7 linked regions of the Homo sapiens genome follow. The protein of the gene in region 5 purifies or fractionates together with the protein of the main gene of each other region. This does not show direct contact. Each region holds a gene or a part of one and is shown on either strand. Other genes may lie near its edges.

Region 1 (4,113 bases), on a different chromosome or scaffold from region 5:
TTTTGAGACAGAGTATCATTCTTGTCACCCAGGCTGGGGTGCAATGGCACGATCTCTGCTCACTGCAGCCTCTGCCTCCCAGGTTCAAATGATGCTCCTGCCTCAGCCTCACGAGTAGCTAGGATTACAGGCGCCTGCCACCACGCCCGGCTAATTTTTGTATTTTTAGTAGAGATGGGGTTTCACCATGTTGGCCAAGTCTCGAACTCCTGACCTCAGGTGATCCGCCCGCCTTGGCCTCCCAAAGTGCTGAGATTACAGGCGTGAGTCACCGCGCCAAGTAATCACTTACTGAACACCCACCATGGGCCAGACATTGTGCGACGTGTTAGGGCTACAAACCTGATTACACATGGCCCTGAACTTGAGCTCAGCCTACCTGGAAAGCCAAACACGTAAACACATGACTACAAAATGTGTTACATGAATTAAAGGAAGTAACATAATATATAACAGAACACAAAGGTAAGGGCAAATAATCTTAGGAAGATCAGGGAAAGCCTCACAGAGGACAATTGAGATAGTTCTTGAAGGATAAGCAGGTGATCCCCAGGATAAGCGGAGTAAGGGAATTCACGGCAGAGGAACAACATGCACAAAGGCAAAAAAGAAGAAAATCATAAGGTGGGTGCAAAGAATTAATTATGACAACAAAAGCTTATAGCCACTGAACACTTCCTATGTTACAGGAACTGTACTGAGTGCTCTATATACATCATCTCACTTCATCCACTCAGCAAAATAGAATTATCTTCACTTTTCAAATAAGGAAACTGAGGCTTAGCAAAGTTAAAAAAAAAAAAAAAAAAAAAAAGGCCAGGCGCAGTGGCTCACGCCTGTAATCCCAGCACTTTGGGAGGCGGAGGTGGGCGGATAATGAGGTCAGGAGATCCTGACCAGCCTGGCCAACATGGTGAAACCCCGTCTCTACCAAAATACAAAAAATTAGCCAGGAGTTGTGGTGCCCACCTGTAGTCCCAGCTACTCGGGAAGCTGAGGCAGGAGAATCGCTTGAACCCAGGAGACTGAGACTGCAGTGAGCCAAGATCGCACCACTGCACTCCAGCCTGGGCGACAGAGCAAGACTCTATTTCAAAACAAACAAACAAACAAACAAACTTGCCCAAGGTGTCACAGCTAATAAACGGTAGAGCAGAATATGTAAGTATCCATGTCTGACTCCAAAGCCCAAACTCTTAACCATTCTGACATGACCAGAGTGCAAGGGACAGTGGGAGGAGTGGCAAGACAGAGCTCTAGAATGAAAGGCAAGAGCATATTATAAAGGGCCTGGAAGAACAGAGGCTCTATCCTGTAAATGATGAGGGGCCATCACAGGATTTCACAAAGGAGACTGGCATGACCAGATCTGTAGGTCAGATAGACGATTCTAGCCAAGAATAGTGGTGCATGCCTGTAGTCCCGTCTACTAAGGAGACTGAGGTGGGAGGATGGCTTGAGGGCAAGAGTTCGAGGCTGCAGTGTACTAGGGTCACACCGGTGAATACCAACTGCACTCCAGCCTGGGCAACATACCAAGACCCTGTCTCTAAAATAAATAAATGATTCTGACAGCTGCATAAGAACTAATTACAGGAGGACAAGAACTGAGGCAGAGAGACCACTTAGGAAGTTATCCTGAAAGCACAAGCAAGAAATTATGAACTAAGTCAGTGTCTGTGAGGATGGAAAGGAAGCGCCAGATTCTAGGGGAATTAAGAGGCAGAATACAGGACTTGAACTTCGGGAGAGAGGAGGGAAATCAGAGCACTAAAGCCAGAACACTGTGACTATCATTTCTAGATGTGTTCATTTCTATGCCTCGTCCAATAGGCAGCCCCACCTACTACACTGCCTAGAAGACAGGGCATGTCCGACAAATGTTTGCTGTATTTATTAGATGAATAAATTAAAGGGACAGACTTGGCTGAGTGAATGGTGAAGCCCTTCATTGAGATAAAAAAATACAAGAGGAGAAACAGATCGGAGGGACCGGGGAAGGCTGACGATGACAGTAAGCAGGTCTGAGCTCAGGAAAGAGGTCTGGCTGGAGTAGTTTGGCGAGTCAACGCTGAAAAGCTGATAACGCAAGAGATGGAGTGCGCCGAGTAGAAGGGAGCTTTCTACTGCCAAGGACTGAGTTAGGAGAACGGACAGGGAGTCGCTGAAGCCAAGTGAGGAGAGCGGTGCCAGAGGTAGAGGGACATTTTTAAATCCAATGCAAGAAAAGGAAAAAACAAAAAAGCTTTCCAACTTTCCCAGCTGGCCAAAGATGGCATAAGATTGGGCTAGCCCCGGATTTGGACCCGGGGGGAAGCCTGCCACAGAAGTATCCCAGCAAGCTTCGGAAGGCCTGGCCTCACTCGCCAACGATGAACAGAGCAAGCAAACCAGGGCCCCGTGCCCAGTGCCCCTCTCCCGCGTCCCGACCCGCTGCTCACTCACCCGCCAGACCCCCAGCCCGGGCCCGGTGGCCCGCTCAGGAGCCGGCGAGATTTCAAACGGAGGAACTGTCGCCTGGCAGTCCGATTTTCACTTCTTCCCTCAGTCCCCGCCCACACTCGAGCGCATCACGCTCGTTGGCTCGAGAGCGTGCCTCGGGTCCCCCGCCACGCTCGCTCCCTTCCCCGCCGCCCAACCCCTCCCTCGATGAGGTCCTCAACTATCCCCCACCCCGGAAGGCTCCGGGCGAGGCTCCGGGCGAGGCTCTGGGCGAGGCGCAGCTCCCCCAACGCCACCCAACACCCACCCGCTCCCCCAGCTTCCAGGGACGCCGGGGTGTTGCCCTGCAGCGCGCAACAAACACTTCCGGAAAAGGTACCGCCTAGCAACCGGGAGTCCCGCCTCCAGCAGGAGCCAATAGGTCGCCGGCTGAGAGCTGTGACAATGGATTGGCTCGAAGTCCCTTCGGTGCACGCAGGAGCTCTGTCCGTTTTCCGTTGCACGATGGGAGTGTAGTTTAAGATAGATAATGGGAATCCGCAAGAGGTTGAAAGAGTGTAGTTTAAGATAGATAATGGGAATCCGCAAGAGGTTGAAAGAGAACCTCATCGGCTGGGCGCGGTGGCTCACGCCTGTAATTCCAGCAATTTGGGAGGCCGAGGCGGGTGGGTCACCTGAGGTCAGGAGTTCGAGACCAGCCTGACCAACATGGTGAAACCCCTTCTCTACTAAAAAAAAAAAAAAAAAAAAAAGAGGACCCCGAGTTTAGACGTGAGGATTTCTGCCAGGACAGAGAAGGACTATTTAGAGTATTTATACTAATGTGAATTATCTAATTATCTAATTGATCATTTGTTAGGAGTATGATTAACATCAGGTGAATAATACAGTGGTCATCAATAATCAACCCATTGTTACTTTAATCAACAAAACAAATGTGAATGTAAGGTAATGGAGACGCGTCCACTCCCCATCTCTCCCCGCAAAAAAACTGGCTCTCCTGTGCTCCTATTAAACCAGTGAGCACCTGACCAGGAGTTAAACCTATTTTCTACTATCCATCTTTTCACCAAAGCCCAGGGTTCAGTTTGTATGTCTGCAAGATGGGGATAGTAATGTCTGTCATAACTATTTCAAAGAGTCTATTGAAGAAGAAAAAAAGTGACACAATGTGTAGCTCCTCCACACACCCTGTCGGGCAGAAAGGTTGCTACTAATATAATTCCGAAGAGTTTTAGTTTTGCTTGCACGGAGGGCAAATCTTCCTTTCTCTCATATGTCTCCAACCTCCTAGAGAAGTTAAGAGGGGCAAAGAAAGTTCTGGCCATTACATCAATAGGAAAACTGAGAAACAGACAAATACAGATGCTGCTAGTTGAGGAGGAAAATGATGAGGCCAAGCTCATAGAGCCGCTCCTGATAGGTTCTAGAGATGTAGCTGACTCAGGATAGTCCCAGTGCCACTCAGAGGCTGATTCCAGGATGAGAAACTCAGATTGTTGGAATATACAGAGCATATTCCTTGTGAAAATTATCAAAATCAAAATAGAGTCATTTGTTTTAAAACCCTGACAAATGGAGCCAGGGAAGACCATGAAGAGAGGGTTCTCACGCATGAATACCTGATAACAAAAACTATCGACCGGGCCTGGTGGCTCATATCTGTAATCC
Region 2 (3,500 bases), on a different chromosome or scaffold from region 5:
ATTAGACCCCAATCCCAGAGACAATTATGCTGACCTTTCTCTTCTGGCTCTGACCCATAACCTACATTTTTTTTTTCAACCCAAGCAATGCTAATAAGTAGAAAAATTCATAGGTTCAGCAGAGGACTTTGAACCTTTTTGCTGTGCCTTGTTCTAAAGTGATCAGCAGGAACTGAGTTTTACTAATAGGAGAGAAGCAACACAGTTTCTTCTCTCTCTCCCCCATCTCTTCTGAATCCTTCTCATGAAATTAAAATACCAGAGGAGACAGCTGATCATTTCCACAGGCAGAAATGCAACTTCCTCCTTGCTAGAGAAGAAAAAATAGTTACTCCTAAACAAGATTGCTTTCTTATATGGAATAGTAATCTCAAAATAGGAATGTTGTTTAAGCACCAATTACAAAATAAAGAGGAAGAGTGAGCTGCTTCTCTACTCTGGTGTATATTTTGTAGCTGCAGGGTGGTATACAGAAATCTCTTGGACACAAGGGGAAAGGAAGGAAGCATGTCCACGGGGCACCTCCGAGACACCAAATTTCAACCTTTTTGAATTCCCTTTGTGCCCAGATGAAGAGATGAAATGACAAATATAACAATTTCTCAATAACTAAAATGTCACTCGCCATGCTGCTTAATAATTTTTAAAGCAAATATTATAATCTATGTTCCATCTCAGCAGCAGAACACCTAGTTACTCAGTTGATTTCCCTTATCCTATCACATTATTTGTATTCCCTCGCTCAGGTCTGTGCCAAATGAGTGCCTGTAGACACTCCCTCTTGTGGCCACGGCCCCTACTCAGCTGCTGCAGCCCCTCCCTGCTGCGGTCCTGGGTGATGGCCTGCTGACCATCTGCCTCCCCTGCTAGAAATCCAGGAAGGCGAGGGCTTGAGCTATATGCTCAGCGCTGAGCAAAGTGCCCAGCAGAGACAAGGCTCTAGATCATGTCTCACTGAATGCTTTCCAAAGCAGATTTACTCTGGAATCAGCAACATCAACCCTCTCAAAATCTCTTGCCTCTTTCAGTTATTTTATATGTTCCTGGGTACCATGACTAAAACCAAGAAACTGCTAACAGGGGTTTTGGGTATGATGTTTTTCCAACGTTTGGGAGGGACTAAGAGGTGGCTTTACTTGAGAAAATTCCTTTCAGATTTGAGGATTAAACACTTGGTCCAAGAAGAAAAGGACCTGGCTGTTGGCTGAGCCCTGGAACAAAGCACAAAGCTCCCACGGCTCTCTTCCCGTCTCCCTCCACCCGCAGGGAGGGAAGTGGGTAATCTGGAGGAGAAGAGGAAAAAGAGGAAGTGGGCCAGAGAAGAGAAGTCTGATGGCCAGTTTTCCTCCAGTGCTACGCTAACTCGGTGTCACAGCTTTTCCAAAGATTGAAATACGAAGTTTTTCTGTCCTAATTTCTTAAGACACAAAGGAAACAAGTAGATAGAAAAATAAATAATATTTAAATGTTACAATCATATTAAAGATATATGCTGGGAGTTAATTATTATTTCAATTTTTCACTGTGATTTCCCAAACTTTAAGGTTCCCAAGGAACAGTTTTTGCAGAAGAGTCTTGGGGAAAAGTCCAACTACTATGCCAGGCACTGAAGAGTAAATGAAAACACTTTTTAAGCAACTGGCCTGGGAAGCCTAAATGAGAAGCCTTTCCTTCCAACGTGTCCTTTCTCAGCACTGTCTTTACATGTTCACATGGGAATTACTTCAGAAATGTCATTAACAATATAATGACACCTATAACCCCCAACCCAAGATTTTGACTAATTTACACCTACAAGATGACTTCAGTGATACATGAAATAATTCACAGAGCACACGGACTGGTATTTAGTATGCGACCCTGCTGACTGTTAGTTCAAAAAAAGAACTTACTTGGGTGCTGATATGAGAGGGGCACAGCAGCTGCAGCAGCGTCCACATGAGACATATCCCCGGCAGGAGAAAGCCCGCCCATTTCCAACTGCCTTGGCATGTTCCCTGCAGCTGCATGAGGCACAATTGTCCCATGAGTCCTTAATAATAACACCAAGACAAAGAAGGGCAGTGCAGTGTGGGGGCAACTGACTGGAGCACGGGAACTGAAGCCAAAGTAACTGGGTGCGCCCTTTCCTAACAGGATTCTATGAAGTTCCCAACATAACCACTTGGCAACGTATTTGCTTGTCAGAGTGTTCTCGTAGTTGAAAGAATTAACTTTGTTTACAAAATGAGATTCGTTACCCAACAGGAAAATCAACCCAGTGACAGTGAAGAATTCAATTGGCTTGCTGATCATCATTTGAATTCTATTAAAATATCAATGATTTAACACAAAGACTTTAACAAATATTTACAAAATTTACCAAGCCCTCTCATTTAACTGTTCAAAATATTAACACTTTCAGATTTGAAGATGAAGTTTACAAGGCTAACCAATAGCTTATATGCAAATATAAAGATTTCTCAAGCTGGAAAGAACCTTAGAGATGATAGGCTCTACATGCTTATTTTACACTTACAAAGTGGCTACAAAGTAAGACAGTCTAAGGCAGGGCCATAGCCAGGACACCAGTTTCTGGACTCTTAATATTCTTTTATCTCTATTCTTTTACTAAAAATGAGGTTTTCTAAATCTGAGGCAATCAACTGAATCAGTATATTTAAAAAATAACATCCTTAGGCCGGGCGCAGTGGCTCATGCCTGTTATCCCAGCATTTTGGGAGGCCGATGCAGGCGGATCACTTGAGGTCAGGAGCTCAAGACCAGCCTGGCCAATATGGTGAAACCCCATCTCTACTAAAAATACAAAAAAACTAGCTGGGTGTGATGGCATGCACCTGTGGTTGGTCCCAGCTACTCGGGAGGCTGAGGCAGATGAATCACTTGGACCTGGGAGGAGGAGGGAGATTGCAGTGAGCCAAGATCGGACCACTGTACTCCAGCCTGGGCAACAGAGAGAGACTCCATCTCAAAAAAATAAAAATAAACATTCTTGTATTCCATCAAAGGAAAAAATAAATAAAAATCACTTATTTAAAATCTGATAAGTTAATAATTCATTTATAAGCTTAGCTCAAACTCTGAAATTATTAGTCATACTGAAATTTTTAAAAAGTAAACACACACATGAAAATCATCATGGTAGAAAAATGAGGTGATACATCTGTACTTGTGGTTGTATCACAAAATAATAATGACCCAATTTGTAACTGCTTTTCTTTTTAAACCAATGGATACGTTTCACCAAAACTAAGCTTTCTAGATTTTCAACATATAAAAACTGGTATTTATATTTGAACTTACATTCAAAAGATGATTCAAACTCCTCATTATCCTTAAAAGCTAGCTTGTCCACATCTGAAAATTCACTTTTGTCTTGAAGTTCAGTTTGTCTTCGATAAAGACTAGATTGGAAGGATAAAACTCGTGAAGTTTCAATAATGGAAAACCAAAGAGTACAAGGTGACAAAAAGCCTTTTGTGACTCAAGAAAAGGCTCTA
Region 3 (3,500 bases), on a different chromosome or scaffold from region 5:
AATGAATGTAGAGATAAACATCTATGAGTTAACTGAGGGATTAACGAAATACAACACAATTATAATTATTTAGTTATCAATAATTAATAATTAGGAACTTATAAAAATGATATAGTAATTAATTAGAAAGCAAGAATAACAACAATGAAGACAAAGACCCATTTAAAATATCACTGGTGTCTTTTTAAAAAAACATGAATTTGAGTTTACTTCTCTGTACACACAATAGGTGCTTTTGCCAGACTTTTTAAAAAAAAATCTTTTTTATTTTTAATATTTATGAGAACATAGTAGGTGTATATATTTATGGGGTACATGAGATATTTTGACACAAACATACGATGTGTAATAATCACATCAAGGTAAATGGAGTATCTGTCACCTCAAGCATTCATTATTTCTTTATGTTGTGAAAATTCCAGTTATACTCTTTTAATTTAAAATGCGTTATAAATAATTGTTGACTGTAGTCACCGTATTGTACTATATCATATTCTAGAGCTTATTCATTCTAACTACATTTTTGTACCCATTAACCATCCTCCTCACTACCTTCCCAGCCCCGTTACAGACTTATTAGTGACTGAATTAGAGGGCTCAAAATGAGAGCTATAGTAATTTATTTGTGTGTGCTAGTATTAAAACCCATAATAATTGACTTGGAACGATTACTAGTAAGAGGCTCTTAGTCATATGTAAAATGGAAGTATGGAATTGTACCTCATTTTGTCTGTGAGAAATAAAGGGCTTGCTTATTCTTCTTATGTCAGAATATACTTGGGGAAATAAAACCGTGCTGTCTTCGTCACCTAGGAAGCCTTCTGTGTTACTAAGCACCTTAGTATGGAGAAGAGTTCTTGAGTAAATTGTACCCAGGTTGTTAGTCTTAATGTCATCTCTAAGAGGCATACAGTTCCCACCCAATATACAACTTTGGTGTAGTATAGTCTTTTCTGGCAGCCATCTTCCTCTTCTTGGTCGAAACTTACCTCTTCAACTCACCCCTAGTTCTGAAAATGAATCTCCAAAGATTATATCAGTATGTAGTAATATTGTTAACACTCACACTTAGTGTATTCTTCTTTCCCAGGGCTGAGAGAATAATAAGGACTCTAAAAACATACCATTTTTCATCATGAACTCCTTATGTACATAGACACATTTTATAAATCATAGTTAATGGATTTGTGATCACCATTCTTCTGACAGTTTGACATATATGTCCTTAACTTTATATAGAACTGACAAGAATTCTTCTTTAACATCGTGCATCTCCTCCCTCGCTTTTAACAGCTTAACCTATAGTCGTTCTTCCAGTTTTCTTTACTAATCTTTTCCTTTACCCCTGAGGTTAAAAAGACCTTATCTTATGTAACCTGGATCTTTCAAGGACCTGGGCTGTACATCTTAACTCCTTAGCTATTTATCTCATTTGTCCCCATTCATGGTGTCACTAATAATTTGTAATGGCCAAAGGGATATAAAAACTTTGAGAAATCAGGAAATCATTTAGAAAAACAAGGTTTTGTTTTGTTAATCTGTTTTGGTTTATTAGCTTCTTGAGCCTGTTTTGTTTCCTCACAAAAACTTTTCTTATTTTCTTTAGACCCAGCAGGCAAGAACCTCACAAAATTTTGTAACTCATATTCCTTCTCAGGTTACAATGCATGTTACATTTTTAAATTTTTTACTTTTCTTGAAGAGTTAATACTTGATACTTCTAGTTCTTTACTTTGAAATTCACTCCTCAACCCATTTCATTCTATATTCAGCTCCTTTGAAGCTCGTCAGTGGCCATAGAAAGCCAGTCAGTTGTAGTGGAAAGAGCTCAGAACTTGGATTTAGAGTTTAAGGGTTAAAGTACCAGTTTTTGTCACTTACCCACCTACAATTCTAGAAAAACTATGTATCTTTGCACTTAAAATGTGGTCTGAGGACCAATAACATTGGGCATCCCTGGGGAGCTTGTTAGAAATGCAGAATTTCAGGTCCCACCCAGACCTACTGAGTCAGAATCTGCAAGTTAACAAGATCCCAACATTGAGAAGCACTGTTACATGGTCATCTTTGCAACTCGGTTTCCCTATACGTAAAAAATAGATAATACTTGCTCTATATATCAATCATCTTAACACCATCTGACACATCATATGTTTTACCAATTTATTGTCAGCCTCCTCCTGCTAGAATACAAATTAGCTCTGTGAGGTAGGGATTATTGTCTGTTTATTGCTGTATGTAGAACAGTGCCTGGAACATAGTAAGCATTCATGTATTTTGAATGAACAATGAATGAAGGGACAGCTTGTCAAATCCTGTCATTTCTGTTGCAGTCACTTACTTTACACTGCTGTTTAAAACTGCTTTCATTTAGAATTATTGTATTAGTGCAAATATAGAACATTTCTATAGAAATGTTTGTTGGATTGTGCAACCTAGATTTTTACATTCCCTTCTCACTCATCTTGAAAACTTTAAAACTGTAAACAACTTGCCATGCTATACAGAATTAAGTTAAAACTCTTCAGAGTAACCTTTAGAGTTTTTTCAGTTTTATGTACTTAAATATATATATATTATACAGGGTGCATTTGTTGGGAGAGTCCTTCAAACTCACTGCACGCATAGCATCCCTCTAGGCCATATTGTACTGCCCCTGTGGGACTTGGGGGCAGGAGGAACCCGTGAAAATAAGCTGATGAGCCTTTGCTGTACCAGGGATCATGAAGTCTTTTGTCTCTGACTGAAGACCTTATGTCTTCTGCCAGCCTGCAAGACACAATAACAGATTGTAAGTAGGGTGAAATCAAATCCTAGACCCAATAGCATTATCCCATCTCATTGAAAATTCTCTTAAAAATCCAAGTTGTAAGATCCATATAATATTTCATCCACTGGATATACTGTTGTTTATAACCATTACTCTGTTGTTGAAGATTAAAATGTTTTTACTTTAGTTTTCTAATTAATATCTTTGTGTGCAAATATTTATCTCCTTTGATGGCTGTTTCCTTAGGATTCATTTCTAGAAGCTTTTTAAAGGCTCAAAGCTGGCTTTTTTCCAGCACATAGAATTTTAAAATAGAAAATTTTATATACTATTAACAAATCTCTTTTTCTTTAGGAGACACTTCTAAAGGAGGCATAGCTAAAGTTACTCAATCCAACTTGAAGTCAGGCATCACTACCACTCCTGTTGATTCAGACATTGGATCTCATTTATCCTTGTCCCTTGAGGACCTGTCTCAGTTGGCTGTAAGTTCTCCTCTAGAAACTACTACTGGTCAACACACTGATACTCTCAACCAAAAGACATTAGCAGATACTCATCTAACTGAAGAGACTCTGAAAGTCACAGCTATTCCTGAACCAGCTGACCAGAAGACTGCAACACCAACAGTACTCTCTAGTTCCCACTCACATAGGGGGAAGCCCAGCATTTTCTACCAGCAGGGCTTGCCAGACAGTCATCTAACTGAAGAGGCTTTGAAAGTTTCAGC
Region 4 (3,500 bases), on a different chromosome or scaffold from region 5:
CCCCACCTGGCCACCACGCCCACCGACAGCTCGTGTTCCAGTGGCCCAACTGGTGACGGGGTCCAGGGAAGTCCTCTCCCCATCAGTGAGTCTGACACAGCAGGGACAGGGAGAACCAGCATTTCAAAAGCCCTGATCGTGGCGTCAGAGGACCTGGACCCTGTGCCCTCTTCATTTTTTTCTAGGACTCAGTTCCCCTGTTGTGCTGTTCTTTTGTTAACAAAGTACGCCAGGGAGCAGGACAACATATTTAGCCTCTGGTGTAACCACCAAAGAGGAGGCATGATGCTCAGCCCCTGGGGAGCCTGTCATCCCGCCCCGATCACTGAGCACTTTGTACACAGAAAGTCTCCGGCAGTTTCTAACATGCAGGCCCACGGCCAGCAGCATTGACCTACCTGTGTGCACTGGTCTGATCCTTAGACCGTCTCATCACAGCAACCCTAACTGCAGAGCAGGGCAAGGGGAGCTCCTAGGATTTCTCTGGGGTCTCATTTTATTTTTAAAACTTCTCACAAATTTTGCATGTCTGTTTTTATAAAAAAGTACTTCAAATTTATATGGAATAAAATTGGCACTCCCAAAGAGCATACCCCATTTAGCTGTGGTTTCATCTGGTGTTCAGGGGTCGTCGGGCACACTTGCTCTGGGGTTCTGTGTGCCCTGTGTGTGCCCTGGTTTGAGAAGCGTGAGTGTGAGATTGTGGCCTACATGTCAAGGCTGCCGGCATCACTTCCTGAGCCAAATTCCGAGGCTGGGCTCAGGGGGAAGGGTCTGGGAGTGTTCACAGTGAACCAACAGTCTTGCTGTTTCCAGTTAAACCAGAAAGAAACGGTAAAGGCCCTCAGCCCACCTCGAACAGGGACTTGGGTGGCTGGAGAGGGCTGTCCTCTATGGGAACCAGATCTGGTGTGATTTTCCAGAGTCTGGAGCTGGGGCTAGAAAGGCCCTCTTGTCTTCTCCTGCAACAGAAACTGCCGACAAACCGTGGCCTACAAGGAAGGAAGGCCCAGGAGCCCTGGGCGGGGAGCCCAGCCCTCCCACCCATAGCCCCAGCAGGAGGAAGAGCCACAGAGGACAGGAGAGAGGGACCTCAGAGGCCGGTGAGAGGCGGGCTTTCCTTAGTGGGGTAGCGATGGGGAAGTGTGTTTAGTTCACACGAGGAGGTCATGCTGCTCCGCCGCCTGGGCCTGGTGGCAGCTCCACCGGGCAGGCCTTGTCTGCATTCTCACGGGTGGGAATCTCAGCCGCCCGGAGACCTGAATGCCTGCCAGCGCTCCCGGTGTCCCGTCAGGACTGCACTGACCCAGGCCCACCTTGCATGTGCCACAGGAATTTCTCCTGGGAACAGCCCCTTGCAAGGCCTCATCAACTGTCTGAAGGAAATCCTTGTGCCTGGGCCCCGGCACCCCGAGACATCCCCAAGCTTCTTGCCACCTCTCCCTAGCCTGGGCACGTCCAGGCTAACCAGAGCAGACCTGGGGCCTGGGAGCCCGCCCTGGGCAGGTGAGTTCTGGGGCCTCAGGCTGAGGTCTCTGAAGCTTGGTTTGCATTTCAACAGCGATTCCTCCTGCTCCAAACTGTCTCCCTTAGGGATCGTTACCAGCTTGGTCGCTGCTGTGTTGCCAGTGTCACCTTTCTGGAGCCAGGTGGCTCTCTTAAGGGCAGCGTTTGGTCAGCTGGGAAAAGGAAACTCGGAAGCAGGCTTTGCCCTGGTTTCTTCATGTCTCTTCCTCCTCCTGACTTGGGACCCGAGGGGAAGAGCTGCAGAGCTCATGTGTTGCTTTGCATTGACGCCAGGCATGATGCATGGGGTGGGCTTGGGCTCTGGACAGCATGGTGGAGGGGCCGGGGCACAGGTCTTGGAGTCAGACCCGGAGAGGCTCCTGATGCCTTGAGCCTAGGCTGTTCCCACTCACAGGGCCGCAGTGAGCTTAGCTGCAGTAATGTACTTACTGTACAACTCCATTTTCCTCAAATGTAAGTTCTGTTCAGGACCCCAGAGCTGTCTCAAACAGTGACCCTGACAGCCCACTTCCTTCAATTTGTCCTCAGAGTGATGCCACTTGTCTGCCTGCAGGGCGAATTCCATGGCTTCCCTCTTTGCCCTGTCCGGTTCTGGCAGGTGTGTGGACCCAGGCACTGGGAAGACTCAGCGAGCCACTGGAAGAGCCTCATCTTCAGAGTTGGCCCCACGCCCTTCTAACTTGTCCCCTGTTTGTTGTTTGTCATGAAGGCTGAGGACACTGAGCTCCAGGTGAAAACATGTTCCTTTTTCCTTAGTGAAGACCGAGGCGGTTTCAGGGGATTGTCCCCTCCAGGGTCTGCTACACTGTCTGAAGGAGCTCCCCGAGGCCCAGGACAGGCATCCCAGTCCCTCAGGAGTGGGGAACCGACGGCTACAGGAGAATCCAGGAGCCTGGAAAAGGGGTTCTGGAGGTAAAGGCTTCTCGCTGGGCTGGGAGGGCCCCCAGACATCCTACATTACCCTGCCCCAGGCAGGGCTGTAGGTGGCCCCCACCACAAACACTCAGGCCCCCATATTGGCCTGTCGGGAAGAGGATCCGGATGCGGGGGATCCCCACTGTGTAAGTGGAGCGAGCTGTGTGGGAGGGGCTCGGTCAGCGCTTGATAATTCTCAGGCTGGCTCTTAGAGGAGGAGCTGGACATTCTGAAAGGAAAGTGGGGAGGGAGCGAGATCAAGAAATAGAGGATGGAGCTCTAGCCCAGCACACACGCAGCTCCTCATTGTGGCTTGGGGTCCTGTGTGTTTGGGTCAGGTTTCTGCCATGTGTGTGAGAGCTGGGAACCCCAAATCCTAATTATACCCACCCAGCCCACACAGGGGTTCGTGTTCCGTGCATGTCACCTCAGCTTGTTAGCTTCTCAGAACAAAGCCCTGAGCAGCTGGGTTGAGTCAGGTGTGCTGGCCATGGAGAAAGACATGATTGGTGCTGTCTGGGGAGGGCTGACTTCATGCCTGGTAGAAACCTTGGAGGCACCCCAAGGGGCCATGGTAGGGGAGGAGGCGTGTGACTCAGGTCTCTGCTGGTGATTGACAAGTGACAGCAGTCTGAGCCGGTGACTGCCGTGGAGGCACAGGGGCTTTGGAAGCCCCTCCTAACCCTATAAAGGCCTCAAGGGATTCTCAGGGTGAGTCCAGGCCTGAACCTTGGGCTTCCCAATGGCCTCCTCCCGCAGGGCCTGGATACCTCCTGACCCCTCCTCCCCATCCTGATCTTGGAGCTGGCGGTCTGCTCTCTGTGAAGATGGAGAACAGCTGGGTCCAGAGCCCCCCAGGACCTGCATCCTGTCAGCCTGGCAGGCAGCCCCTCAGTCCCTCAGCCACTGGAGACACCAGAGGGGTCCCCCAACCCAGCTGGGGCCCTGAGGCTCAAGGTGAGGCCTGAGATTGGCTGCTCTGGTGGTCTTCCCCATGGGCTTGTCAGTCCCTGGCAAGGTTCCACTAACCCCAGGGAAGCAGCTCTCAGCAGGGAGCC
Region 5 (3,500 bases):
ATCCGGACTTGAGTGTGTTGACTTCGAAGTGACACGTGGAGCTATCAAAGTGCAGTCCCAGGACCCACCACATCAGCTTCATCTGGGAGCTTGTTACAAATGAAGCAGAGGCCTGTGCTAGACCCGCTGAAGCAGAAGCTGGATTTTAGTGAGACCCCCGGGTGACTTATGTGCACTTTTCAGGCTCTAGTCTGGAGGTTAGCTAGGCACATGGGGTTGATGCTCGGGAGAGGGATCTTGGCAGGAAACAGAAAGGCGGGAGTTGTCAGTTCCAGGTGATGATTGCAGATGACACATTTCCAGGGTGAGTGTGTAGGGAGGGAGACTGGATGGAGTGACTTTGCTTGAGTCATGCTGACTGCTTAGCATTATCTTTGTAGAGCTGTGGAAGATCACACATAACCAGCCCTGGATGGCAGCCAGCCTGTTGTAAGGAAAACATGCTGTTTGCAGCCATTATCTCAACAACTATTATAGCAACAGCAATTTTCCCAGACGCCCGTTGGATGAACTGGGCCTGGAACCTGGACTTAGAACCCTTACTGTGCACTGTCATGTTCTTCTCATAGAGCCCTACTTTATGGTGGTGTGGGGGCGGGGTGGGGGTGTTCCATGTACTTACGTTGTCAGGGCTGGAAATGTGAACAAGTGGAAAAAAAAATCACACATGATGCTCAATAGGCACTCATAGAAGTTGCTCAATAAAGGTTTGTTAAATATTGTTGAAACAAATCATTAAAAATTGCTTTCAGATTTAAAAAATGCATTTCTATCAGTAAGTTCAATTTGACTTTACAACATCCTTGTAAGTAAACATGCTTTCTTAAAAAAAACTTTATTGAGATATAACTTACATACCGTAAAAATCACCATTTAAAAATACTATGTAACTCAATAGTTTTTGGTATATTTACAAGGTTGTGTGACTATCACGACTATCTAATTGCAGAACAGTTCCATCATCCTAAAAAGACACTCCATCCCTTTAGCAGTCACTCTCTTTTCCCCTCTCTCCCCAATCCCTGGAAACCACTCTCTGTCTCTATGGATTTGCCTATTCTAGACATTCTATAGAAATGGAATCATATGTGTCTGGCTTCTTTCACTTCTTTCACTTAGAATATTTTGTAGGTTTATCTATGTTACAGTATATATCAGCACTTATGGCTGAATAATAATCCACTCTGTGGGTATACCAATGTTTTATTTCTCTCTACATCAGTTGATAGGCATTTGGGTTGTTTCTGCATTTTTGGCTATTATGAATAATGTAGCTATGAACATTCATGTATAAGTTTATATACAAATGTATGTTTTCATTTCTCTTGGGCATATACCTAGGACTGCAATTGCTAGGTCTTGTGGTAACACTACATTTAGTCTTTTGAGGAGCTCCGAGATAGTTTTCCAAAGTGACTACACCATTTTACCTACCCACTAGGAATGTATGAGGTTACCAATTTATCTTTCCCAACACACTATTATCTGTCTTTTTTGAGTATAGCCATCCTAGTGAACATGAAATGGTCATGCTCTCATTTTACAGCTAAGAAAACTGAAGGTGCATTATTTGCCAAAGTTGGTAGAGCTATTAAATAGCCAAACTAGAGCTTTTCTTACATAAAGGCAAATACTTGTATGATGCATACTCTGTGTGAAGCATTAGGTCATTTGCTCTTAAGTCATTTAATCTTTGTAACTATCTATAACAAAGGTACTATTATTGTGTTTATTTGTAAATGAATACAAGGCCAGAACTGGGCTTGGAGTGCAGCTAGGGAGGTTCTTAGGGTGCAACATTTAAGAAGACATTACTCTCAGGTTCCTACCAGCACTTCCACGACCCTGACTGTTATCTCCTTAAATATTGCATCCTAGTTGCTTCACTGGCCTCATCTTAATCCTGGTCCTGTTTGAAGAAACTGAGGCATACAAAGATTGGGTAACTTACCCAAAGTTTCCAAACTAGCAAGTAGCAGAGCTGGGATTCAAACCCCAGAAAGCTGGCCTCAGGGTCCATGTCGTGAACCACTAGCCTACACTGACTCCCACATCTCTGATCTGCAAACTGTGCCTTTTCCATTTCTTTCTCAAGACATAACTTTCAGAAATTAGCCAGTGCTTTGACAAGTGGAGCACCTAAAGTAAAATCCCAGAGATGGGTTCTGGGGAGACTAAGCCGAACTACTCAACAGCTCCCCTGGGCGCCTACCACATGATTCTCCTGAAGGAGTTTACTGGCCACACAGATCGCCTCGCCACATCTGTACTTATCATAGCTCTGCATAAATCTCCCCAGTTCCGTGGAGGCCCCCCTGCAAGCGGCCAGATGGACTCTGTCCTGTTGGAGAAGAGGCCATTCAGACCCGTCAGGATTATTAGCTCTGACCAGCTGTAAGGAAAACAAACGTTCTCCTGGCCAAGCCAGAATGAATCTGCCACTTGTCCAAATGTTCTGAGTCAAATACCTAGAAATCAGATCTCTCATAAACACACCCAATTTGGTAGCTCATGCTCTTTGGTCTTTTAGAATTAACTGGTCATTTGCATTCATTTCGTCACCTTTCCAATGCTGTTGCTCTGTCATTGGGTTTTGAATGGTTCTCCAATTTAGGCAGAGCTTCCCACAAGGCAATATGAATACAAAAATATACATTGGTGCTTGTATATTTTACCCCCTCAGGCCTTTGGGAAGATGTTTACACAAGTCATCAGCCAACAGCAGGTTCTTCTTCTGCTCCCCAAGAGGAAGCTCAAGTCAGTTTTGGTTCATCAGTGCTGAGTGAGCTCCAGCAGGGCAGCCTGTCCCGGGCCAGCAGATCTTTTGTATCTGCCTCAAACTCAGAGGTTTTTGGTTTGAATTTCATTGCCATTTTTCCTTCATTAAAAATGGTAATTTGCAGTGTTGAATTTTCACCCTTTTGTTTGGAATTTCTATTTTATTCTATGACTGATTATCAAAGCTGTGGGTCTGTGGACCAGCAGCATTGGCATCTCCCAGGAGCTTGTTGGAAATGCAGACTCTCAGGCTGCACCCTAGATGTCCTAGATCCAGAATTTGCAACTTAACAAGATCCCAGGTGATGCCTGTGAACACTCAAGTTTGAGAAGTGCTATTCCACATGTCCATTTCTCTGTTACCTTCAGCTAGGGTCTCCATTCAGTACTTACTTTGAGGCTAAAATTTTTTGGTAGACTTTCAGATCTTAAAAAAACACACATACGCAGAAATTCTTTCCTTTGCCTTTGCATGATGTCATTCATTTTACCTGGCCTGCCACAAGAAAGAAAAAGGCAAATTATATCCAAGTTTTATATATATGTGTATACACACACACACACACACACACACACACACACACACACACATATATACATATATATGACTAACTTCTTAATTGCATCTCTTAAAACCCCCATCGTTAACAGAGTCCCAAGTGTTGCCAAGATTAATTGAGAAAGACCTAAATGCAAAATAAACACTGTGGCGTGGTTTAATT
Region 6 (3,500 bases), on a different chromosome or scaffold from region 5:
GTCTGCAGAGTTGGCGATTGGGGCAGGATTCCATGGCTGATACCATGCCAGTCACACTGCAGCTAGCATTCTCTGCTTTCCATTGCCTCCTGTTGCCCATCAGCCTGGTGGTCCATCCGTCATTCTGGCCAAAAGTGGCCAGCTCCATTCACCAGAACATAGTTTTTCTTCTCATTCAACCAACTGATGATCTTGAAGATCTCGATATGCATGAGCTCTCATTATTGGCTCCCTTTCCTTGACCCTCCCTGGTGACATTTCTTTCCTTTCCACTTGACCCCAACAGACATCTCAGCCAAGCCCTGGTGGTCAGTCTTCATGCAGCAGCCAACAGTCCCCCATCAGCAACTATTCCAACAGTGGGCTCGAGCTTCCTCTGACCGATGGAGGTAGTATAGGAGACCTCAGTGCCATCGATGAAACCCCAATCATGGACTCAACCATTTCCACTGCAACCACAGCCCTTGCTTTGCAAGCCAGGAGAAACCCGGCAGGGACCAAATGGATGGAGCACGTAAAACTAGAAAGGCTAAAACAAGTGAATGGAATGTTTCCGCGACTGAACCCCATTCTACCCCCTAAAGCCCCTGCGGTCTCTCCTCTCATAGGAAATGGTGAGTTCTACATCAGACCATGCATCTGCTCAGGGTTTTTTTTTCTGTTCTTTTAAATGCAGGCCCTCAGTTTTATGTTTGCTAGTTTCTCCACCAGTCCTAAAATGACGCTGTAACCATCCGTTAATGTTTAGCCCATTCAAGTTGCCTTTTGGGATTGTCCATATTTTAAAAACAGCTAGGAACAGGATAATATTGAGAAAAAAATGTGACTGTGCATGACTCATATTCTGATGGTGAAATCATAACTGTTAGATTAGGGTAAGGGAATGCCAGCAGTGGAGGCATCTGTGGTTGGAACTCTGTCTCTGGTTTCCAAAATTTAAAACCACGAGGTTAGCAGCCACTTTTATTTATATTTACCCAGTTCAAGGAAAGTCAGAAATCCCTCCCCACTGTCAGTCCCCAGGTCAGTTTGCACTTCTGAGATTACACTTCTGAGAGCACCTAAGGGGTGAAGCTCTTGCCTGCACCAACACAGGTGTTACCTGTTGGTAGGATGTGGCATGAACAGGACGCCCTGAGCGTGAATGTGAAACTCGTGGAGTACCTTTGCCTGGGGACTTGCCTGGAACTCAAGCGTTGTGTACCATCACAAGATTCTTTTTGTCCTTGCACAGCGCTTGGGGAGGGGCTTCAGTGAATCGAGGGAGTTGTTATTGTTTTGTTTAAGCCAGGCATCAGCAAACTACAGCCTGCGGCCATCTCCAGCCGCCCCTGTTTTTGTAAAGGAAGCTTCATGGACACCCCGCCACGCTTGCTTGCTCACTGCTCTCTGTGGCCGTGTTGGGGCTACACTGCAGAGCTGAGTAGTTGTGAGGCAGGCAATGTGGCCTGGGACACCAGAAATAGTTCCTAGCTGGCCCTTTACAGAAAAGGGTTGCTCATGCCTGGTGTAAGTCATGCTCGAAGGGAATTCATCTCCGCATGGTCTCTCCCTTTCTCTGTCTCCAGGCACACAGTCCAACAACACCTGCAGCTTGGGTGGGCCCATGACGCTTCTCCCGGGCAGAAGCGACCTCTCTGGGGTGGACGTCACTATGCTGAACATGCTCAACAGAAGGGACAGCAGCGCCAGCACCATCAGCTCGGCCTACCTGAGCAGCCGCCGCTCCTCAGGGATCTCGCCCTGCTTCTCCAGCCGCCGCTCCAGCGAGGCGTCACAGGCCGAGGGCCGGCCGCAGAACGTGAGCGTGGCCGACTCCTACGACCCCATCTCCACCGACGCCTCGCGCCGCTCCAGCGAAGCCAGCCAGAGCGACGGCCTGCCCAGCCTGCTCAGCCTCACGCCCGCCCAGCAGTACCGCCTCAAGGCCAAGTACGCGGCTGCCACAGGAGGGCCGCCGCCGACGCCCCTGCCCAACATGGAGAGGATGAGCCTGAAGACGCGCCTGGCGCTGCTCGGGGATGCCCTCGAGCCTGGCGTGGCCCTGCCTCCAGTTCATGCCCCGAGGAGGTGCAGCGACGGGGGAGCCCACGGCTACGGGCGGCGCCACCTGCAGCCGCACGATGCGCCGGGCCACGGCGTGAGGAGGGCCAGCGACCCGGTGCGGACAGGCTCCGAGGGCCTGGCCCTGCCTCGTGTGCCGCGCTTCAGCAGCCTCAGCAGCTGCAACCCCCCGGCGATGGCCACGTCCGCGGAGAAGCGCAGTCTCGTGCTTCAGAATTACACGCGGCCCGAGGGCGGCCAGTCCCGAAACTTCCACTCGTCCCCCTGTCCTCCCAGCATCACCGAGAACGTCACCCTGGAGTCCCTGACCATGGACGCTGATGCCAACCTGAACGATGAGGATTTCCTGCCGGACGACGTGGTGCAGTATTTAAATTCCCAGAACCAAGCAGGGTACGAGCAGCACTTCCCCAGCGCCCTCCCGGACGACAGCAAAGTGCCCCACGGGCCCGGTGACTTTGACGCGCCCGGGCTGCCAGACAGCCACGCTGGCCAGCAGTTCCATGCCCTCGAGCAGCCCTGCCCCGAGGGCAGCAAAACCGACCTGCCCATTCAGTGGAACGAAGTCAGCTCCGGAAGCGCCGACCTGTCCTCCTCCAAGCTCAAGTGTGGGCCGCGGCCCGCTGTGCCGCAGACTCGCGCCTTTGGGTTCTGCAACGGCATGGTCGTCCACCCGCAGAACCCCTTGAGGAGCGGGCCTGCTGGGGGCTATCAGACCCTCGGGGAGAACAGCAACCCCTACGGTGGCCCAGAGCACTTGATGCTCCACAACAGCCCCGGAAGTGGCACCAGTGGAAACGCCTTCCATGAACAGCCCTGTAAGGCCCCGCAGTATGGGAACTGTCTCAACAGGCAGCCAGTGGCCCCTGGTGCACTCGACGGTGCCTGTGGTGCCGGGATTCAAGCCTCAAAGCTGAAGAGCACCCCCATGCAAGGGAGCGGGGGCCAGCTGAATTTCGGCCTGCCGGTAGCGCCAAATGAGTCAGCTGGCAGCATGGTGAATGGCATGCAGAACCAGGACCCAGTGGGACAGGGGTACCTGGCTCACCAGCTCCTCGGCGACAGCATGCAGCACCCGGGGGCAGGCCGCCCCGGTCAGCAGATGCTTGGGCAGATTAGTGCTACCTCACACATCAACATCTACCAAGGGCCAGAGAGCTGCCTGCCAGGGGCTCACGGCATGGGCAGCCAGCCGTCAAGCTTGGCAGTTGTCAGGGGCTACCAGCCATGTGCCAGCTTTGGGGGCAGCAGGCGCCAGGCTATGCCGAGGGACAGCCTTGCTCTGCAGTCAGGACAGCTCAGTGACACAAGTCAGACCTGCAGGGTGAATGGTATCAAGATGGAGATGAAAGGGCAGCCCCATCCGCTGTGCTCTAATCTGCAGAATTACTCTGGTCAGTTCTATGACCAAACCGTGGGCTTCAGTCAGCAAGACA
Region 7 (3,500 bases), 6.6 Mb from region 5:
GACAAGTCATTTAGCATGCCTGGCCTCAATTTCCTGTATGATCTCTAACATCTTTTCTGAAACCATGACTATGGCTGTATATAGGAAATGTTGACTTGACTATCTTACGGAACAGATTCTGCATGGTTTTAGAGGTAAATGTTTGGGAATAATTTGCAGCTAACGTGTATCCCAGGAGTTCACCATTTAGTGCAATTCACAATCAGAATTTCTTTTAACAAATCATATTCATTGAAAATGATAGTCACCATCTGGACAGTTCTGGAGGCTACAGCTAAACTGCTTTGAAGATGTTTTCTCTTCTTAATAATATTCTGTTGTGTTTATCCTTTGCCAAGGTTCTGTGACTCCCCGACCAGTGACCTGGAAATGCGCAATGGCCGGGGTAGAGGCAAACGCATGCGTCCCAACAGTAATACACCTGTCAATGAGACAGCCACAGCCTCTGACAGCAAAGGGACCAGTAACAGCAGCAAAACCCGGGCAGGAGCCAATAGCAAAGGCCGTCGGGGCAGCCAGAATTCTTCAGAGCACCGCCCACCTGCCAGCAGCACTTCTGAGGATGTCAAGGCCAGCCCTTCCTCAGCTAATAAGCGGAAAAACAAACCCCTTTCAGACATGGAGCTGAATTCTAGCTCAGAGGACTCCAAAGGGAGCAAGCGTGTCCGTACTAATTCCATGGGCTCAGCCACTGGCCCCCTTCCTGGGACAAAGGTAGAACCCACTGTTCTGGACAGAAACTGCCCCTCCCCCGTCCTAATTGACTGTCCCCACCCAAACTGCAACAAGAAGTACAAGCACATCAATGGACTTAAGTACCACCAAGCTCATGCCCATACAGATGATGACAGCAAGCCGGAAGCGGATGGGGACAGTGAGTACGGAGAGGAACCTATTCTCCATGCAGATCTTGGGAGCTGCAACGGTGCATCTGTCTCACAAAAAGGTTCCTTGTCCCCTGCCCGCTCAGCTACCCCCAAAGTTCGACTTGTAGAGCCCCATAGCCCTTCTCCTTCAAGCAAATTCAGCACAAAAGGCCTCTGTAAGAAAAAGTTGAGTGGGGAAGGGGACACAGACCTTGGGGCCTTATCCAATGATGGCTCTGATGATGGACCCTCAGTGATGGATGAAACAAGCAATGATGCCTTTGATTCTTTAGAAAGGAAGTGTATGGAAAAAGAAAAATGTAAAAAACCCTCTAGTTTAAAACCTGAAAAGATTCCTTCCAAGAGCCTAAAGTCAGCCCGTCCCATTGCCCCTGCCATCCCCCCACAGCAAATCTACACCTTCCAGACAGCCACCTTCACAGCAGCGAGCCCAGGCTCTTCCTCAGGCTTGACCGCCACAGTGGCACAAGCCATGCCCAACAGTCCCCAACTCAAGCCCATTCAGCCCAAGCCCACTGTTATGGGAGAACCTTTCACAGTCAACCCTGCCTTGACTCCAGCCAAGGACAAGAAAAAGAAAGACAAAAAAAAGAAGGAATCTTCAAAGGAACTTGAAAGTCCTCTGACCCCTGGGAAGGTGTGTCGAGCAGAGGAAGGCAAAAGCCCATTCAGGGAATCTTCAGGAGATGGGATGAAAATGGAGGGGCTCCTAAATGGCTCATCAGACCCCCACCAAAGCCGACTGGCTAGCATCAAGGCTGAAGCCGACAAGATCTACAGTTTCACGGACAATGCCCCCAGCCCTTCCATTGGAGGCAGTAGCCGCCTTGAAAACACTACCCCTACTCAGCCCCTGACTCCCTTACATGTGGTGACCCAGAATGGAGCTGAAGCCAGCTCAGTCAAAACCAACAGCCCTGCATACTCTGACATCTCTGATGCTGGGGAGGATGGGGAGGGCAAGGTAGACAGTGTCAAATCAAAGGACGCCGAACAGTTGGTTAAAGAAGGGGCTAAGAAAACTCTTTTTCCCCCTCAGCCTCAGAGCAAAGACTCACCATATTACCAAGGCTTTGAGAGTTACTATTCTCCAAGTTATGCACAGTCCAGCCCTGGGGCTCTGAACCCCAGCAGCCAGGCAGGAGTGGAGAGCCAGGCCCTGAAGACAAAAAGGGATGAGGAACCTGAGAGCATAGAAGGGAAAGTGAAGAACGATATCTGTGAAGAAAAGAAGCCCGAGCTGAGCAGTTCCAGTCAGCAGCCCTCGGTCATCCAGCAGCGTCCCAATATGTACATGCAGTCCCTGTACTACAACCAGTATGCCTATGTACCCCCCTATGGCTACAGCGACCAGAGTTACCACACCCACCTTCTGAGCACTAACACGGCTTACCGGCAGCAGTACGAAGAACAGCAGAAACGCCAGAGCTTAGAGCAGCAGCAGCGGGGAGTGGACAAGAAGGCAGAGATGGGCCTGAAGGAGCGGGAGGCAGCACTCAAGGAAGAGTGGAAGCAAAAGCCGTCAATTCCACCAACTCTCACCAAGGCCCCCAGCCTGACAGACCTGGTGAAATCAGGACCTGGCAAGGCCAAGGAGCCAGGGGCTGACCCAGCCAAATCAGTCATCATTCCCAAGTTAGATGACTCTTCAAAACTCCCGGGCCAGGCCCCTGAAGGCCTTAAAGTGAAGCTGAGTGATGCCAGCCACCTAAGCAAGGAGGCCTCTGAGGCCAAGACAGGTGCTGAGTGTGGTCGACAGGCAGAGATGGATCCAATACTCTGGTACCGACAGGTAACTGTTGCCCTGGGAGGAAGTGGAAATACCGTATGGTAATCGTCTATCTTCCTCACAAATAAGGGCTGTCCTTATACAGGGGTTCAACGGAATTGAGATTAGCAGGAGAGATGTATAATTTTAAGGATTCTTTACCTTTGTAAACTATTTTAATGTTTTTTATTTTATTTTAGTATTATTATTTTTTTTGAGATGGAGTCTCACTCTGTTGCCCAGGCTAGAGTGCAGTGGTGCAATCTTGGCTCACTACAACCTCCGCCTCCCAGGTTCAAGCAATTCTCCTGCCTCAGCCTCCCGAGTAGCTGAGATTACAGGCACACGCCACCATGCCCAGCTAATTTTTTTTGTATTTTTAGTAGAGATGGGGCTTCACCATCTTGGTCAGGCTGGTCTGGAACTCCTGACCTCAAGTAATCCACCTGCCTCAGCCTCCCAGAGTGCTGGGATTACAGGCATGAGCCACTGCACCCAGCCAATTTTTATTTTATTTTATTTATTTATTTATTTATTTTGAGATGGAGTCTGGCACTGTCACCCAGGCTGGAATGCACTGGCGCAATCTCAGCTCACTGCAACCTCTGCCTCCCAGGTTCACACGATTCTCCTGCCTCAGCCTCCCGAGTAGCTGGGATTACAGGTGCACGCCACCACACCTGGCTAATTTTTTGTATTTTTAGTAGAGACGGGGTTTCACCATGTTAGCCAGGATGGTCTTGATCTCCTGACCTTGTGATCCACCCACCTCGGCCTCCCAAAGTACCTGGATTAAGGCGTGAGCCACTGCGCCCAGTCGTAATTTTTTTTATTTTTATGTTTTT

The links.
Region 1: the proteins of THSD4 (region 5) and CEP164 purify together in Homo sapiens (affinity purification with mass spectrometry; 2 studies listed by BioGRID and IntAct, with this or other methods). This does not show direct contact.
Region 2: the proteins of THSD4 (region 5) and OFD1 purify together in Homo sapiens (affinity purification with mass spectrometry; one large-scale study listed by BioGRID and IntAct). This does not show direct contact.
Region 3: the proteins of THSD4 (region 5) and ALMS1 purify together in Homo sapiens (affinity purification with mass spectrometry; 2 studies listed by BioGRID and IntAct, with this or other methods). This does not show direct contact.
Region 4: the proteins of THSD4 (region 5) and KRABD3 purify together in Homo sapiens (affinity purification with mass spectrometry; 2 studies listed by BioGRID and IntAct, with this or other methods). This does not show direct contact.
Region 6: the proteins of THSD4 (region 5) and GLI3 purify together in Homo sapiens (affinity purification with mass spectrometry; one large-scale study listed by BioGRID and IntAct). This does not show direct contact.
Region 7: the proteins of THSD4 (region 5) and ZNF609 purify together in Homo sapiens (affinity purification with mass spectrometry; 2 studies listed by BioGRID and IntAct, with this or other methods). This does not show direct contact.

What each region holds. Positions count from the first base shown.
Region 1 is NC_000011.10:117,326,541-117,330,653, reverse strand, and holds the start of CEP164 (centrosomal protein of 164 kDa), read right to left. Parts: upstream 2,801-4,113; 5' UTR 2,750-2,800; exon of another isoform or gene 2,446-2,749; intron 1-2,445. UniProt on the Homo sapiens protein: Plays a role in microtubule organization and/or maintenance for the formation of primary cilia (PC), a microtubule-based structure that protrudes from the surface of epithelial cells. Plays a critical role in G2/M checkpoint and nuclear divisions.
Region 2 is NC_000023.11:13,762,248-13,765,747, reverse strand, and holds part of OFD1 (centriole and centriolar satellite protein OFD1), read right to left. Parts: intron 3,405-3,500; coding exon 3,304-3,404; intron 2,033-3,303; coding exon of another isoform or gene 2,031-2,032; exon of another isoform or gene 2,004-2,030; coding exon 1,893-2,003; exon of another isoform or gene 1,889-1,892; intron 1-1,888. UniProt on the Homo sapiens protein: Component of the centrioles controlling mother and daughter centrioles length. Recruits to the centriole IFT88 and centriole distal appendage-specific proteins including CEP164. Involved in the biogenesis of the cilium, a centriole-associated function.
Region 3 is NC_000002.12:73,444,836-73,448,335, forward strand, and holds part of ALMS1 (centrosome-associated protein ALMS1), read left to right. Parts: intron 1-3,124; coding exon 3,125-3,500. UniProt on the Homo sapiens protein: Involved in PCM1-dependent intracellular transport. Required, directly or indirectly, for the localization of NCAPD2 to the proximal ends of centrioles.
Region 4 is NC_000007.14:149,721,451-149,724,950, forward strand, and holds part of KRABD3 (protein KRBA1), read left to right. Parts: coding exon 1-85; coding exon of another isoform or gene 86-393; exon of another isoform or gene 394-590; intron 591-923; coding exon of another isoform or gene 924-971; coding exon 972-1,103; intron 1,104-1,332; coding exon 1,333-1,506; intron 1,507-2,283; coding exon 2,284-2,439; intron 2,440-3,201; coding exon 3,202-3,399; intron 3,400-3,500.
Region 5 is NC_000015.10:71,237,471-71,240,970, forward strand, and holds part of THSD4 (thrombospondin type-1 domain-containing protein 4 isoform 1 precursor), read left to right. Parts: intron 1-3,500. UniProt on the Homo sapiens protein: Promotes FBN1 matrix assembly.
Region 6 is NC_000007.14:41,964,710-41,968,209, reverse strand, and holds part of GLI3 (transcriptional activator GLI3), read left to right. Parts: intron 1-286; coding exon 287-614; intron 615-1,568; coding exon 1,569-3,500. UniProt on the Homo sapiens protein: Has a dual function as a transcriptional activator and a repressor of the sonic hedgehog (Shh) pathway, and plays a role in limb development.
Region 7 is NC_000015.10:64,673,578-64,677,077, forward strand, and holds part of ZNF609 (zinc finger protein 609), read left to right. Parts: intron 1-338; coding exon 339-2,679; intron 2,680-3,500. UniProt on the Homo sapiens protein: Transcription factor, which activates RAG1, and possibly RAG2, transcription. Through the regulation of RAG1/2 expression, may regulate thymocyte maturation.